Linked DNA regions of Homo sapiens. The protein of the gene in region 1 purifies or fractionates together with the protein of each later gene. This does not show direct contact. Each region holds a gene or a part of one and is shown on either strand. Other genes may lie near its edges.

Region 1 (3,655 bases):
AAGGAATTAGGAATGGAGCACCCCGAGGGTAACTACTGGATTACATTGGATACATTCCAGGGCCATGGTCTTTCTTTGTGAGAACATTAGTCAGCAAGGCTTTCATTCAAAAGCATGGCACCCTCCATTCCCAGATGAGGGAAATAGGATCATGAATGCAAAGCAGTGGTCTGGGAAGGACTATATACAAGTGAGAGTCTCAGGAATATATATATCTATATATATATATAGATATATTTTTTTTTTTTGAGACAGTTTCTTGTCACCCAGTCTGGAGTGCAATGGTGCCATCTCAGCTCACTGCAACCTCCACCTCCTGGGTTCAAACAATTCTCTTGCCTTAGCCACCTCAATAGCTGGGATTCCTGGAGCCCACCACCACGCCTGGCTAATTTTTATATTTTTCTTAGAGATGGGGTTTCACCATATTGGCCAGGCTGGTCTCAAACTCCTGACCTCAGGTGATCTGCCTGTCTCAGCCTCCCAAAGTGCTGGAATTTCAGACGTGAGCCACCACGCCCAGCCGAGTCTCAGGAATATTTTAAAGCAGAACCAAATCTAGCCCCAAACCCCAAATTTTAAACAAGGTCCCCAAAGCTGCATTAGCTTAAAGTTAAAATTTGGTGAAGAGATTCTGTCCATTAACAGAGGCCTCCATCACAGGTTCCTGTAACACTAAAAGCGCCCAGTCTTTTACAGACAGATAGATGACCCCTGATGAAAATGGACTGCGCTAATTGCAAAATGTTTCCAGGCAGATACAGCGTGGAGAGCCTCCCGCAAACCATCACGTTCTGGCTCCAGTTCTCATGAAAGATTAAACAGCTTTACACACTGGCTGTTTACTGAGAAGAAAATTTAAGAGCAAGGCCTTTAATAGCTATCTGGCTGCACTTTGAGATAAAGGTGCATCCCTCCTGATTAACTGTATGTGCTTCTCCCTTAGGGGGAAAGCTGGGCATCATTGCGGCTGCCCAGATGCAGCCTCAGAAGTCAGTGAGTCTGGTCCAGCAAAGAGAAAGGGAAGTAATTCTGCAGGAGAGCCTCACTCTTGTTAATCCCAGTTTCTAATTTGAACAGTCTAATCTTGCCCTGGAGAACTCCACGTTTGAGATAAGACAGCAGGAGTGGGAGTCAGTGAGCTGCCTGCGAGCTAGCAAGCCCCACTGGGAAGGCAGCCCCAGGTGGCCAGCCACAGTGTAAGCCTGCAGAACCTCCTCTCTGTAAGAGACACACCTCTCATATCCAAAAAAATGTAAACACGCGAGGATAACTTGGACTCTCTGTCCATGTCTGAAATGCCATCTTCAGCTAGTAGAGCCTGTCTGGGTCCTCAGTTGGATCAGGCATTGTTTTGCTCTTCAGGAATTTTCTAAAAGCTTTCTCATTCCAGCCTGGATTATTTCTGCACTGAGCCCAAAGCACTATCCCTGCGCAGCAGGAGGCCACGAACTAGGTGGGATGGGAAAGAAATCTCAATCCTCCTTTATGCTTAAATGCACAGAATTCGATTTCATATTTCCAGTGTAAAAAGATAATATTTTCTAATACTTTTGTCAGAAGAATTTGATCTCAGTTTTTCCTGTGAAGTGTTAAAGAAGAGGATTTTTGTTTTGTTTTGTTTTTTAGAGATGGTCTTTCTCTGTCATCGAGGCTGGAGTGCAGTGGCATGATGGCTTACTTGTAGCCTCCATCTCCTGGGTTCAAGAGATCCTCCTGCCTCAGCCTCCTGAGTAGTTGGGACTACAGGCACACACCACCGCACCTAGCTAATTTTTTATTTTTGCAGAGTTGAGGTCTTGCCATATTGCCCAGGCTGGTCTTGCACTCCTCAGCCTCAAGCCATCCTCCTGCCTCAGCCTCCCAAAGTGCTTGGATTACAGGTGTGAGCCATAGTGCCCAGCCACAAATGGATATTTGAAAGCCTGTGGGACACCTGGGCTTACTCTGGTCCACTGCCTCACATGCCCTCCCACCCACACACAGCAAGGCATGGCCCCATGTGGCAGTAGAATTATCACATCCAGGTCACATGAGAAGAAGATAGAAGAGTTGCTTCCATGCCGCTGGAACAACCATTCCACTGGATTCTCGTGCTGCACTTGATTCCTCGGATAGGGAAGTGTAACTACCATCCTCATCTGATTGTCTGATCTGCCTGAGAGGGGCTGGGATACTGGGGCAGCCCTTTCTTTCTCCTCTCTGGACAGGTTTTACATTATTATTATTATTATTATTATTATTATTATTATTATTATTATTTTGAGACAGAGTCTTGCTCTGTTGCCCAGGCTGGAGTGCAATGGCACGATCTTGGTTCCCTGCAACCTCCGCCTCCTGGATTCAAGCAATTCTCCTGCCTCAGCCTCCTGAGTAGCTGAGATTACAGACACCTGCCACCACACCCAGCTAATTTTTGTAAATTTTGTAGAGACGGGGTTTCACCATGTTGGCCAGGCTGGTCTTGAACTCCTGACTTCATGTGATCTGCCCACCTCGGCCTCCCAAAGTGCTGGGATTACAGGTGTGAGCCACTGTGCCTGGCCAGGTTTTACATTTTTTAAAACTAATTTTTACTCTGAGGAGAAGCTGACCCTTATCCTCCATGCCCCTGAAGAAAAGTAAACCCTCCAGATAATTTAGAAAGTGAATATATTCAAACCACAATTTGTCCTTGTCATAAATATTTATTAATAATAGTAGTGACCATTTACTGGGTATACACAGTGTTCCAGGAACGATGACTTTCTATGCCTATTTCCGGAGGTCACCCAGCTAGTGCATGCTGGGTGCAGGCTGGCGGTAGAGCCCACACACCTCTTTATATTGGATTCAACTTTAATTCTCCAAAGGGAGCAAAACGTGCTATTTGGGCAGTTGCCCTGGATCTAACATACTATGTGGCAGAAGTATCTATATTTAGCTTTTTTCCAATTTATAATTCCAGGATAAATAGAGGAGCAGAATTTGGTGTTGATACCTCTGCAATATATTGCTGTGTGTTGTTGTTTGTTTGCTTTTTAACTAAAGTATTTAGGATTCTTTAGCAAAGCAATTACAAAGATTATTTCTAATATCTTAAAAAACTTGGCTTTACGGCCCCCAAACAACTCATTTCCTTCAAAAGTTGTAGGGGAACTAGAAAGCACAGGCACAGGCCTTTATCAATGGCTTAAATCTCCTCCCTGAATTCAACCTTAATGTAGCATTGGGTATTTTGTTACAAGCTCTGGTTTGGGGCCTAAAAGTGAAGTTGCTTTTGTGTATTACTAAAATCTTACATTCACTCTTTAAATGGACAAGTGCTTTGAATTCTGCCTCTCATCTGCCCGCTGTAGAGAAGAAGAAATCCCTTGATTGAAATCCCTCCAAAGACTTGTGGAGTCACCCTCGGCGTCCCTCACTCACCGTGCTGCGTGTGGCCACCCTACCTGTGTGTTCTTGCGTGACTCTCGAGCTTGGGGCCACTCTGGGCAGAGGCACAGTGGTCTTCTCCATTAGATCGCTCAGAGCCTGCACATGGATCCCTGATTCAGATACCAGTTTGCTCATTTTCCACATGGCTAATGTATTTTATCTGTTGGTAAAATGCTCCCAAAGAGTGTTCCACTCATCTTCCAAATGTATTTAGGAAACCATCGCCATGGCTGCTGAG
Region 2 (3,655 bases), on another chromosome or scaffold:
GTAAACATTTGCTAAAATGCTTTATGTGTATTAACTCCAATACCTCTAAAACAACTCTTTATAAATAGTAAACATATGCTAAAATGCTTTATGTGTATTAACTCCATTACCTCTAAAACAACTCTTTGAACTTAAATAATGAGTATCCCCATTTTACAGATGAGGACAATGAGACTCCAAGCAATTAAGTAACTTTCCAAAGGTAACAAAAATAGTAATGGTACAGCTGGGATTAGAACCTTGCAGTTTGGTTTTAGAACCCTGCTCCTAACTTCTTCTTCTTCTTATTTTTTGAGACGGCGTCTCGCTCTGTCGCTCAGGCTGGAGTGCAGTGGTGCAATCTTGGCTCACTGCAAGCTCCGCCTCCCGGGTTCACGCCATTCTCCTGCCTCAGCCTGGCGAGTAGCTGGGACTACAGGTGCCCGCCACCACGCCCGGCTAATTTTTTGTAATTTTAGTGGAGACGGGGTTTCACCATGTTAGCCAGGATGGTCTGAATCTCCTGACCTCGTGATCCACCCACCTCAGCCTCCCAAAGTGCTGGGATTACAAGTGTGAGCCACCGCACCCGGCCCCCTGCTCCTAACTTCTAAGCAATATTGTTTTCCTTTTGAATCCTTTCATAATGCATAAATATGTATAATAAAAAGGTTATACATCCTGTTTTAAAAATTTTCTTTAGATGATTCTTTTAAAATGCAATGCTTTTAAATACATATGATTACATGAAAGGTTTCTTTAAAGAGGCAGATCGTAAATATTTTAGGCTTTGTGGGTAAAAGAGGTAAAATTGAGGCAATTATGTAGGTACATTTATAGGAAGAGAAAACACACTACCGCAAATACCTTATTGATAAAATTCAAAATGTAGTAAGTAACTGACTACAAATTTTTTTGTAATACAGGTCTACTGACGAAAAAAATGGAACTCCCCTTTTGGGGGTAACATTCTACTTAACTGGAGCTCAAAGTTAGTGATCCTTAGCATCAAAGTCATTACAAATGTTCATTTGTAAAAACCATTCTTAGCTCATGGACCTTACAAAAACAGGCACTGGGCTGGATTTGGTCCACAGGCTGCAGTTTGCCGATCCCTGAACTGGGCCAACAGATACCTTAGGACTCCTTTTTAATCAATAAATTTGCTTCCTTAATTAAAACATGTCCTCAATGGTTATATAAATACTTTGGTTTTACTAGTGTTATTTTAATATATAATATAAAAATAAACCAGCTCAGTCCTCATTTAAATTGCTAATTCAAATTAAGGGGTATGGCTTAGTAACACTATACTATAATTTGTGTAAGGTTGGCAGTAGCAATCCTTTTATTTTTTTTTACATTTTTATTTTTCTAATTACTTGGCAAGCAGTAGCAATTCTATAATCACTGCTTTTCCGGAAGTAAAATCAAGTAAATATTACCATTATGTCCATATTTATAACTATGAACAGGCCCAATAAGGTAGGATTTCTTTTCTTTTCTTTTGTTTTTGAGATGGAGTTTTGCTTTTTGCCCAGGCTGGAGTGCAATGGTGTGCAATCTCGGCTCACTGCAACCTCCGCCTCCTGGGTTCAAGCGATTCTCCTGCCTCAGCCTCCTGAGTGGCTGGGATTACAGGCATGCGCCACCATGCCCGGCTAATTTTGCATTTTTAGTAGAGATGGAGTTTCCCCATGTTGGTCAGGCTGGTCTCGAACTCCTGACCTCAGGTGATCTGCCCGCCTCCGCCTCCCAAAGTGCTGGGATTACAGGCGTGAGCCACTGTGCCTGGCCTGGTAGGAATTCTTACATTGCATCTCAGAAGAGAGAGGTAATTATTAAAAAGTGTATATTAAAGACACATTATTGGGAGGCTGAGGGATGAGAATCGCTTGAACCCAGAAGGCAGAGGTTACAGTGAGCCAAGATGGTGCCACTGCACTCCAGCCTGGGCGACAGAGTGAGACTCTCTCAAAAAATAAGTAGTTCCAAGATATGAGAAAAAAATTGTACATACTAACTGTGAAAAACCAACACTTATTATTTGTAAACATGTTAAGATACTAAAAAACATTATGTTGATGATTTTCACATTTAATTATATATATATATATATATATATATATATTTAAAGATAGAGGGTCTTGCTCTGGATCATAGCTCACTGCAGCCTCAAACTCCTGGGCTCAAGTGATTGTCCTGCCTCAGCCTCCTGAGTAGCTAGGACTGGAGTGTGCACAACGCCTGGCTAGTTTTTAAATGTTTTATAGCGATGGACCCTCCCTATGTTGTGCAGGCTGGTCTCAAACTCCTGGCCTCAAGTGATCCTTGATCCTCTGGCATAGGCCTCCCAAAATGCTGGGATTACAGTGGGATTACAGCCACACCCAGGAGGATTTTCACATTTAAATGAAAATGAAAATGAAAACCGATACTCTCAAACACAAGTTAAAATTACAACACAACTCTGAATGAAACATTTAACCCATTATTACTTGGTAGATTCAATAAAATGAAGGAAAAAAATTATGGTGTCAGACTTCAGACTGACTTTTGAGACTGAATACATTTATTACAAACGAAGACCATTACAAGTGTTTATTTAGAATGATAATGTCTTGGCTTCTGCATACCATGTTTTCAAAAAATCTTTTTTAAAATAAGGCTTCATTTTAAAAACACTTAAAACAAGACAAACCCTTATTTTGGCAAATGTCAATTCTAGAATATCAACCTGAGTATCAGTGTATTTGGAAGAGAGTATAAAACAAAGGGTCAAGAATTTTGATAGAATAGTTTTTGAAAATAAAACTTGAAACATTACCATGGTATAAAGACTATTTCAAAATTACAATACTACTGTGCTTAAACAAGTAATTTGAAAGATAAATCTTTGAAAGAAAACATGAAAGCGTACATACCCTCATTTCTCCTATACAAGTTTATTTAAATACATTCAATGTATTTTCTCTTCTACCTAATTATTTCAGAAGTATCCTTTTCATAGGAATTTACTAAATATACCTTTTTTTTTTTTTTTTTTTTTTGAGACAGAGTCTCGCTCTGTCGCCCAGGCTGTAGTACAGTGGCGCAATCTTGGCTCACTGCAACCTGTGACTCCCAGGTTCAAGCAATTCTCCTGCCTCAGCCTCCCGAGTAGCTGGGACTACAGGAACCCCCCACCACGCCTGGCTAATTTTTTGCATTTTGTAGTAGAGATGGGGTTTCACCGTGTTAGCTAGGATGGTCTCGATCTCCTGACCTTGTGATCCGCCCACCTGGGTCTCCCAAAGTGCTGGGATTACAGGCATGAGCCACGGTGCCCGGCTAAATATAACATATAAATGACTTTTCAAAAAGAGCAGAAAGTTGAAAACACTTTCTCTAGGAAACCTTTCATTTTCTTTTTTCTTTTTCTTTTTTTTTTTTTTTTCAGACAGGATCTTCCTATGTTGCCCAGGCTGCTGTTGAACTCCTGGCCTCAAGCATTCCTCCCTCCTTGGCCTCCTAAAATATTGGGACTACAGGCGTGAGCCATGGCACCTGGCCCATTTTTCTTTTTAAACTTATTTCTATTTCCAAATAGCCATAAATCAAACAATGATATCGTGACCTGTAAAGTAAGAGCTTGAAATTCTCCTACTTTGCACTAGTAAAAGTAAAATCCAAGGCA

The links. The genes of interacting proteins can lie anywhere in the genome.
Region 2: the proteins of ENPP6 (region 1) and NDUFB3 purify together in Homo sapiens (affinity purification with mass spectrometry; 3 studies listed by BioGRID and IntAct, with this or other methods). This does not show direct contact.

Annotation. Positions count from the first base shown.
Region 1 is NC_000004.12:184,092,248-184,095,902, reverse strand, and holds part of ENPP6 (glycerophosphocholine cholinephosphodiesterase ENPP6 precursor), read left to right. Parts: intron 1-2,667; exon of another isoform or gene 2,668-3,655. UniProt on the Homo sapiens protein: Choline-specific glycerophosphodiesterase that hydrolyzes glycerophosphocholine (GPC) and lysophosphatidylcholine (LPC) and contributes to supplying choline to the cells.
Region 2 is NC_000002.12:201,074,940-201,078,594, reverse strand, and holds part of NDUFB3 (NADH dehydrogenase [ubiquinone] 1 beta subcomplex subunit 3), read right to left. Parts: intron 1-3,655. UniProt on the Homo sapiens protein: Accessory subunit of the mitochondrial membrane respiratory chain NADH dehydrogenase (Complex I), that is believed not to be involved in catalysis. Complex I functions in the transfer of electrons from NADH to the respiratory chain.